Homo sapiens: one gene and its partner. The protein of the gene in region 2 interacts with the protein of the main gene of each other region in a biochemical or structural test. Each region holds a gene or a part of one and is shown on either strand. Other genes may lie near its edges.

What was found. Proteins that work in one complex are often made in the same cells at the same time.
Region 1: the proteins of LRP4 (region 2) and SOST form a complex in vitro, tested with the Homo sapiens proteins (one study listed by IntAct).

Annotation. Positions count from the first base shown.
Region 1 is NC_000017.11:43,753,237-43,755,828, forward strand, and holds the end of SOST (sclerostin precursor), read right to left. Parts: intron 2,528-2,592; coding exon 2,106-2,527; 3' UTR 502-2,105; downstream 1-501. UniProt on the Homo sapiens protein: Negative regulator of bone growth that acts through inhibition of Wnt signaling and bone formation.
Region 2 is NC_000011.10:46,915,529-46,923,077, reverse strand, and holds the start of LRP4 (low-density lipoprotein receptor-related protein 4 precursor), read left to right. Parts: upstream 1-4,527; 5' UTR 4,528-4,698; coding exon 4,699-4,750; intron 4,751-7,549. UniProt on the Homo sapiens protein: Mediates SOST-dependent inhibition of bone formation. Functions as a specific facilitator of SOST-mediated inhibition of Wnt signaling.

The DNA.
Region 1 (2,592 bases), on a different chromosome or scaffold from region 2:
GTAATGTGAATCCTAAAGAAAGAGGATTAGTTATTGGGGGTGCTAAGTGTGGATGGCAAACTAAGGAAGCAGGGATCTGCATGACCATTTGGAGTCAGTAGGAAGCTTGGTGGAGTGGGAGGTGGGAGTCAAGCAGAGAAGGCCTCCCATGTCAGATAGGGAAACTGCACTTGATCCTGGGCAAGGGGGAGCTATGGAAGGCTTTTGAGCAGGGGAGTGATACAATGAGAACAGCATTTTGGAAGCCAGCATGGAGGGGAGGCTGCTAAAAGGATACAAGGCTGAGGTTATTACCATGCCCTGGGTGAAGAAATGCGGTCTGGGTTTGGAAAGGAAGGGATAAACATGACTTTTCAAAGGAAGACATAATTGCCACAAGGGCCACCAGAGAGCAGTCAAAGGTGTGTCCAAGGTTGGAGCTCTAGTGACCAAGAGAAGGGTGTCAACTTTGACAGAAATGACGTCATGTGTGGTTGACAAAATGAGACCACATCCTTTCGGTCATGATTCATTGTCTTTATTAACAATGTCTCTGGACTCTGGAAGAACAGACTGTTAATTCATAAAGCAATATTAACATTGTCATTCTCTACAAGAAAAACTTTTGCATAAATAACTTAAGTGAGAAAATAAATATGTAACTTAACTCTTTAAAAACCACTACTTTCATTCTTGTGGACAAGTCCCACGTGGAAGAATTGCCAAAAAAACGACCAGTCCTGCAGGCTTTCATATGTCATGTGCTTCTGTTTAAAACTTTTTTTTTTTAACAATTAAAAACTACACAGAAAGTAAGAGGTTGTCTGGAAATGATTTTCAAAAAGATTTTTGGGTGGCAGTATTATGCTCTGCAGTTTCTCAGCATATGTACAGCACTTGTAGTTTTTCCCCCAATAATATTCTTTTAGTGTAAGATATGCCATCACATGTAAGAGCAGTAAGAAGCTGTTTTCTAGGCAGAAATGTGTCCGTGAGTGGTGGGCAGAAGGCGGTGTCTCAAAAGGGATGTGCTGGTCTGTGAGTTTGTGATGGCTGCTCCCTCGGGCCTGCAAGGCCAGTGTCCTTGAACCTTTCACTTCTCTTCGGAAGGTGACTTTAAAACATGGCTATGGGTCGGGGGAGGGATGCTGCTCTTTGGGAAGTTGGGGCGGATGTGATTTCTATCCCTCCCACCACCCTCGGACCCTCTCCTTTTCTACCCCAATGGATGATGTTATTTCTTTGAGATGGAGGGGTGGAGGTAGCCAAACATCCGGGGAAGCCAGGCTGGGAAGCAGCATAGCTTCTTCCAGGAGTTTGTCAGCCGTAAATATGTCAGCCATAAATAGACTCTTTACTTTTTTTTTTCTGTTTGTTTTTCATCTTTGGCTGTCAGAAGAGAGCATCACAACTCTGAATTCTGGAAGTGACCTTGGCACTGAATCAATGCAACTGCATTCATTCTCTCTCTTTCTCTCTCTCTCTCTCACCTCTGCCCATTCAAAAGGCACTGGAGTCCTTGGAATCATATGCCAATAGTCTCCTCGAGATCCTATTCCCACCTCCACCCTCATTTTACAAAGTGGAAATTGAGGTCCCGAAGGAGAATTGTGTAGTTCAAGGTTACACAGCAAGTTAGTGGCAGAGCCAGGACTAGAAACCACATCTACAGTTGCCCCCAGTCTTGTGCTCTGGGCACGCCTCAGGCTTTCTGATGGGCAGCGAGGTGCAAGGGGGAATCTTATCCAACTTTCTTAACCAGTCCCTGGACTTTCCCACTCCCACACCGCTCCCTTAAAACCCCAGGGCGGTGAAAATGCTTCCATTTCTGCCTCCTCTGAAGTGGGACCAGCAAAGGTAGGCGGCCCCAGAGGCGGGGCTGCGTGGCTCAGTGTCTGTGACTCTCAATTCCCTCCCCTGCCCCGTGGGACCCCTCAGCTGGCGGGCTGAGGGGGGCCTTGCCGGCGCCCGGGATTCCTCAGGGCCTGGAAGGTCTCAGCCCCCTGCCCTGGGTTGCAGGCATTTACAATGAAATATAAACAATCAAACCACGCGCAGAGGACAGAAATGTGGGGCGCGGGTTCAGGGCCGGGGCGCCCGCCGGTGGGGAGGGGCGCGGGCGGGCTCTAGTAGGCGTTCTCCAGCTCGGCCTGGTTGGCTTTGGCGCTCCGGGCGCGGGGCCGCGGCTTCCGGCCCTTCTGCGGCCGAGCGGCCTCGGTCCCGAAGTCCTTGAGCTCCGACTGGTTGTGGAAGCGGGTGAGGCGCTTGCACTTGCACGAGGCCACCAGGCGCACCTTGCGCGCGCGCGGCGCCTCACCACCGGGACACAGCAGCTGCACGCGCTGCGCGCGGTAGCGGTCGGGGATGCAGCGGAAGTCGGGCCCACTAGGTCGCCACCACTTGCCGCGGCCGATGGCGTTGGGCAGCAGGCGCGCCGGGCCGCACTGGCCGGAGCACACCAGCTCGGTGACCGGCTTGGCGCTGCGGCACGGCCCATCGGTCACGTAGCGGGTGAAGTGCAGCTCGCGGCAGCTGTACTCGGACACGTCTGTGGAGAGAGGCGCGCGTGAGGGTGGCCGCCCGCCTGGCCACCCCTGCCCTGGACCGGCCCGT
Region 2 (7,549 bases):
CTTTTACTCAGCTTAGGTGTCAGTGCCTCTGGCAGGCCTTCCTCGAACCCCCAAACCTAAGTCCAGTCTTTCCTTTCATAGAACCCTGTACTTTTCCCTCAAAGCCTCTAACATTTGTAACTTCAAATTCATTTGTGGGAGCATTTTTTAAATGCTTCTGCAAACTTGCAGCCCCCTTCAACCATCAGACTGTAAGTTCCAGGGACCCAATATATTTATTTGTTCATCATTGCCTCAGAGTGCCTGGCGCATAATATACCCTTTATAAGTAGTTACTGAGTAAGCGAATCCTGAAATTAAGCCTCTCTAAAGCAAATAGGTATAGGATTCTATTAGTCCCCTTAGCTGTGCCTTCTCTTCTAAAGTTTTAAGAACTGGCCGGGCGCAGTGGTTCACGCCTGTCATCCCAGCACTTTGGGAGGCCAAGGTGAGCGGATCACTGGAGACCAGCATGGACAACATAGTGAAACCCTGTCTCTACTAAAAATACAAAAAAAAATTAGCCAGGTGTGGTGGTACATGCCTGTAATCCCACCTACTGGAGAGGCTGAGGCACAAGAATTCCTTGAACCCAGGAGGCGGAGGTTGCAGTGAGCTGAGATCAGGCCAACCTGGGGCCCAGAGGCAGAGACTGCAGTGAACTGAGATCAGGCCAACCTGGGGCCCAGAGTGAGACTCCGTCTCAAAAAACAAAAAACAAAATAAAACAACAACAACAACAACAACAAAAACTTATCTCCATTCACATTGCCTTCAACAAGAAAGTGATTCTGGAAATAAGATAGAGTAATTCTTTGCAGTCTCATGTTTTAATCTTTTAAAGCAGTTTCTCAACCTTGGCACTATTAACATTTTGGGATGGATAATTCTTTGTTGTGGGGGATGCCCTGCTCACTGTAGAAAGTTAAGCACCATCTTTGAAAGTTAAGCACCATCTTTGGCCTCTATTCATTAGATGCCAGTAACATCAACTCCCCAAAATTGCCGGGTGCAGTGGTGCACACCTGTAGTTCTAACTACTTGGGAGGCTGAGGCAGGAGGATCACCTGAGGCCAAGAGTTCAAAGCAGCAGTGTGCTGTAGTTGTGCCTGTGAATAGTCACTGCACTCCAGCCTTGGTAACAGTGAGACCCTGTCTCTAAAAGAAAAAGCATGGTGGCTCACACCTGTAATCTCAGCACTTTGGAAGGCCGAGGTGGGCAGATCACCTGACATCAGGAGTTTGAGACCAGCCTCGTCAACATGGTGAAACCCCATCTCTACTAAAAATGCAAAAATTTGTCGGGCATGGTGGTGCATGCCTGTAATGCCAGCTACTCAGGAGGCCGAGGCAGAAGAATCGCTTGAACCCGGGAGGCAGAGGTTGCAGTAAGCCTACATTGCACCACTGCACTCCAGCCTGGGCAACAGAGTAAGACTACGTCTCAATAACATAAAACAAAATAAAATAAAATAAAAGGGAAGAAGAAAAGAAAGAGAGAAAGGGAGAAAGGGAGGGAAGGAGGAGGAAAGGAAGGAAGGAAGGAAGGAAGAAAGGAAGTCTTTAGATGTTGCCCCATGCCTGCCAATTCACCTGTGGTTGAGAACCACTGTGTTGAAGTGTGAAACTTCAGGCCTTATTCTCTTGTAGAAGAATTACATATAGAAATTCAGGTTGTTGAATGATTCCCGGGTTATAAGAGAATTCTACCAACCCAGTTGGATCAAAATAGTGCCCACCCCTATCTTGTTTCCGTAGCACTCCCTGCGTTTCCTTTGAAAAGACCATTAGTGATGGTCTAATTCAGGGAAATATTCTGATCTTGGGAAGAAAGAATGCTGGGCTGTTCTAGAAAGATGAAGGAAAGGGGTGGTGTTTCTGAGGAAACCAACGCCTCTGAGACCCCTCTGGAATTGGCAGTCCCCTACAACTTTTCTAGGGGCATGTCCCAGAGGACAGTGAAAGGGAGACAAACAGCCCATTCTGGCCTGCTTTTCAGGATCTCTCACTCCAAACAAGAAAGTCTGAGAGGCCTGGTAAAAATAAATATGGCTTAGTACTCCTGGCACAAGAGCAGTCTCTGACAGCCAAGACTTAACTCACCCTAGGGGGTGACCCAGACAGGGACTATGCACGAAGCTAGTTTCTTACCCATTGATATTCCCAGTGACTCACAGCAGCCAGGGATGACTCTGTGCACCAGAACTGTGCTGAACCGTGGAGAAGGACTTGGGATGCACATAGGAAACAGTCTCTCAAGCTGAGTCAGACAGGGACAGCCCGCCTCTCGTTTCTTCTCCAATTCCAGAAAAACAACACAAATCATGCCTCTGGAAAGGAACCTGTCCTTTGCATACAGAGTGGAAACTGTTTATAACTTCTTAATCCCCTGACATTGAAAGTATGGGGACTGCCTATCCTGGATTTCTTTGGGACAACTGTACTGGCTCTACCACAAGTCCCTAGTTTTCAGCTGGAAAAAAATATGGTCTCCAGAATCCCAAGGTCATTCCCAACAGATTTAAAAGCAAGTCTTCGGCCAGGCAGAGTGGCTCACGCCTATAATCCCAGCACTTTGGGAGGCCGAGGCGGGTGGATCACCTGAGGTCAGGAGTTCGAGACCAGCCTGACCAACATGGAGAAACTCCGTCTACGAAAAATACATTAGCCGGACGTGATGGCGCATGCCTGTAATCCCAGCTACCCTACTCGGGAGGCTGAGGCAGGAGAATCGCTTGAACCCGGGAGGCCGAGGTTGCAGTGAGCTGAGATGGCGCCATTGCACTCCAGCCTGGGCAACAAGAGTGAAACTCCGTCTCAAAAAAGAAAAAAAAAGAGCAAGTCTTCATAAGCAACATATATGAAACCCTGAGACCAACCAAACCTGCATTAGGAAATGAGAGGTGGGAAGGAGGATGCTGGGGAATCAGCCTCTACTTTTGACGTTTTTTCCTCCTTGGATTTTAGGCTGTGGTAACTGATCGAGGCCAGAAATGTTGACAGTCTTGCCTAGCCCCAAGATCATGTAAGCCTGACCTGACGCTACTGCCGCCTTCAGTCAGCAAGAAGAACTACACACCCAGAAAATGCTTCAGTAATAGTTACCATGGTGATGCTAGTTCAACCACATTGCATCTGGATAAAAATTTCAGGCAAAACGATATAGAAAACTACTGCCTAACAAGGAGTTAACACCTTACATCTTTTATGTTGTTGTTGTTGCTGTCGCAAAGTATGGTTCATGTTAGCTTTGGTAAAAGATGGTAATTTGAAGTGAAAGTACTGAAAAAAACAAGCAAGGATGAAATGTCAATGTATCCATTTAGAGAAATCTAATAACCACTTTGCACTATGCCAAATTACTTTCCCCTCAGCTAACAGGGGGCATTTGGGTCTTCCTGACTCTATTTACTGGTGAGGAAAGTGAGTTAATGAAATCCATAGATGATCCAAGCCCAAGAAATGCTGGCATATCAGCTGGGAGGGAAAAAAGCGATATACTGGGCCATCAGAAAGTTGGGCATTTGGGCAAAAGGAACAAAACAAGATTCAACCTGGAAAAATGGAAGGTGGTGAAATTAATCCGTATTATTAATATGCATTAGGGAGAGTAGACCACAAAAGGAAGGAAGACTAGAGACAAGTTTATGATTTTATGCAGTAAATCAAAAGTTAAATCTGAGGGAAGGACCTACAGACTGGGGCTGGAAGGAGGCTGAGGGCTTTGTGGGAGTGCAGCTGCCCATGAGGACTCCTTTCCTGACCCCCTCCCTTCCTTGTCAGGATCAGAAAGTCAAAGAAGGTGAAGAGGCTAACAACAGTGATTTACAAAGACAGCAAGGAGGAACTAAGTCTGTATGGGCCGAATCTGGGCCTCTGAGCTGGAGCAACAGGACCCAGACAACCATCTCAGGAAATGAGTGAATGAAAAGGGGCGGGGGGGTCGGTGAATTATTTAGCCCTAGAACAACGCTGCCTAGACCGGGGGAGGCCAGGGAGAAGAAAATCTCCGAAAAGGAATTTTGACAGTGAGAACGCCAGTTAAGATACAGCACTCCAGGCCCCCTGATGTCCCTTGTTTGATGTCAATAAAGACCCAAGAGGATTATGCATCCACAAGCCTTGCGTATTCGCAGACATCAAAAAAGTCTGGACTTGGGGCCGGTAGGCGGGGGCAGGGTCACGTCCAGGCGACTTGGGTCAGCTCAGGTGCTCGTCTGAAGCATAGAGCTGGAGTGAGCGGGGGCGAGACTTGCTGCTAGGATAATTTTTTTTTTTTAAGTTAGGGAAATTTAAGCAGTAGTAATAGCGACAGGGAGGGGGCTCTCTCTCGGGCCAGGAATGTGGGGGCGGCCTGAGGAGGAGCGGGGCCCCGCGCAGGAGGCGCCGGCGGGTGGGGTCGGGGGACCAGGGAGCCGGGGCCGAGGGCGGGAAGGGGCCGGGCCGGCGCTGGGGGCGGGCCCAGGCGCGGTGGCGGTGGCCGGGGCTGCGGCGCGGGGGGCGGGGCGGTCGGGCCCGGGACACCCCCTCCCGGTCCCCTGGCGGGGCAGCGTCGGCTCTGGCAGCACTGGAGGCGGCGGCGGCCCGAGGGCGACTTGCGGGGCGCGCAGGCCGCCGTGCACCCGGGACGCTTCCCCCTCGGGGACCCTCCGCGGGCTTCTCCGCCGCGCCGTCCGGCGGGAGCCGGCGGGACCCCGGGCGAGCGGCGCGGGCGGCACCATGAGGCGGCAGTGGGGCGCGCTGCTGCTTGGCGCCCTGCTCTGCGCACACGGTAAGCGGCGCCCGCCGGGAAAGTTTGTCCCTGGGTCCGGCCGCTGCAGGACTCGCCTCCCGGGACCTGGACGGCGCGGGCCGGGGCCTGAGACCCCTCGCCCTCGCTCCTAGCCGTGGCCCTGGGGCTGCGTGCAGGGGAGAGGACCCGGAGCGGCCCCGGCTCCAGCAGTCCGAGCGGGGGCATCAGCGGAGGCGCTTCCGCGGGTTCGGGTCTGGGCCGGGGCGCGGGTCTGGGCCGGGGCGCGGGTAAGGTCCGGGGCGTTCGTTCGCTCGCCCTCCCTCGCTGCTCTTTCAAGAGCGGGGGCTGCTTCCCTTTCAGGTTAGGTCGGGGGCTCTGTGTCCTTGGTGCGAATGAATGCGTGCGAAGAAAGGGAGGCGGGTGAGGAGGGTCGCTAAACCCATAAATTGTAAATAGCCCTCCTTCCTGGGGCTGGGGGCTCGGGCGGGTTGCGGAGAGAGGCCCCGGTAGAATCTGGTACTTGGGCACCGGGATTCCTCTACTCGGAGAACGATTCCCGGACTCCAGGTCTTGCTCCCACCAAGGGGCTCTGGGGCACTGTTTGCGGGCAGCATCTCCCCTCGGCGGTGTTTCGGGGTCCCTCTCTTGGCTGCGGCCAGTCAGCTTCCAGCCCTGGATCGTCCTAAAGGGAGGTGGTTGGAAAGGGGGCTGAGGAGGAATATAGGGAAGAAACTGCTGGAAGGCTCCCGCAGATCTGCCCTGGCTGGGGTAGGGGGGCAGGGGGCCGGTAACCCTGAACCCCAGAAGGCAGCCGCCGGGCCCTCGCGGCAGGGTCCCAGCCCTCGGGGGAGCTGGACGGCTGCAGCAGGACTCCTTGGTGCCCGTACCCCCTGTTGTGTGGGACTAGGGCTCCGATGGAATCTGCTTCTCCGCGGGCTCTTAACGACCCTGGGTGCACCCCGTGATTGAGCAGCTTTCCCTAGTTTGTGCCCAGAGATCAAAGAACTTTGATCTTTGAACCCCAGCCCTATTCACCCATCGCTATTCATCGTGGCGGGAGTTCCGAGTCTCCCCATTTGCCTCGCAGCCCCGATGAAGGGAGCTGGGGCTCAGAATGGAGGGGTCTGGAGACCCTGCCTGGTCTTTTACCGGTTCTTTCTTTCACGTAGGACAGCTCGTGTGGAAAAAGTCAGTGCAGATTTCCGAACTTGCCTGGCAGGGCGTGGAGATGTCTAGGCACTCGTTTTAAAGATTGGTTTACCTCCCAAATCCAAAACAGAGTTTTCATGTCTCTTATTTAAACTACCTGTGGGTTTTCAGGGGCTTTTTTCCGCGTCCTCTCTAGCGCGGACTGAGCTCTTTCTCTCCGAAGAGCGGTAGCTTGGCCGGCCCACGTTCCGCTCCGCTCTGCGCTCTCCCCTCCCCGGCTCTCTCCTGGAAGGTTATTTGTAGCCTCTTTGGCGTGTTGGGACAGCGGCCCTACTGGGGTAGGAATGTAGCTGTTCTTCCCACCACATGGGCCCCTTAAAGGGACAGCTTTGCTTTTTGGGGGGTTTCCCCCTTCGGGTTGCAAGGAAAGGGGATGGAACTTTCCTCTCAGCCCCCTGGAGGAAGTTTTGAAAAAGATCAAGGGAAATGGCAAGGCACTGGGAAAAAAAAAAAAAATTAGGGTTAAAACGGATACCAACAAAGCCAGAGAGGAGATTGTCGCCTTCTGCCCTAGGGAAGGGGGAGCTGGAAGGTTCCGGGCTGAGACTGGCCAAGAAGATTTTACTGCTCCAGAGCTGTCAACGCTGCAAATATTACATGTGCATAGAGGATGGGGGTGAGAATGGGGGGAGAGAATTGCGTATGTCTAATGTTTCACAGAAAAAGAATGGGAGGATTCGCGGTAACGCTTTTAGGTTTCTTTCTCTTTTTTTTCTTGGAGAGGGTGTCTCACTCTGTTGCCCAGGCTGGAATGCAGTGGGGCAATCATAGCTCACTACAGCCTCGACCTCCCAAGCTCAAGTGATCTTGTCATCTCAGCCTCCTGAGTAACTGGGACTACAGGCATGCACCACCATACCCTACAAATTTTTGTTTTTTTTTCTAGAGATGGGGTTTCACCATGTTGCCAAGGCTAGTCTCCAACTCCTGGGCTCAAGTGATCCACCTGCCTCGGCCTCCCAAAGTGCTGGTATTACAGGTGTGAGCCACTGTGTCCGGCCCAGGTTTCTTTTTAAGGAAAAAAGTTTAATAGAAACGTCTAAGCATGGGAAGCTTTCTGTGCACATGTTTGTAAGGGTAGGCAGTGGGGTGAAGGTATACACATCACCTGGCCTGATACTGAGCCATCCTTGGAGGTCTGGGGGGTCAGATTCACAGTTCACCAGTAAGATTGAGCAGTTTCAGAGCCTGGAACCAGCACAACCAAAAATACCACCAAAACATCTTTTGGACTGACACTCAATTCCAGGGGCTCAGGGAGACAGCAGTTGTGATAAATGTAGTAGTAGATCCATTAGGCAGACCTGACCTCAGCAAGGCATGAATTAAAGACACTAAAGTTTAAGGTGATTTTGGGAGGCTGAGACTAGCGGATCACTTCAGGTCAGGAGTTCAAGACCAGCCTGGCCAACATGGCAAAACCCCATCTCTACTAAAAATACAAAAATTAGCCAGGCACAGTGGCACATGCCTGTAGTCCCAGCTACTCGAATGGATGAGGCAGGAGAATTGCTTGAACCTGGGAGGCAGAAGTTGCAATGAGCCAAGATCACTCCCCTGCACTCTAGCCGGGGCGACAGAGTGAGACTCTATCTTAATAAATAAATAAAGTTTAAGGTGCTTATTTGG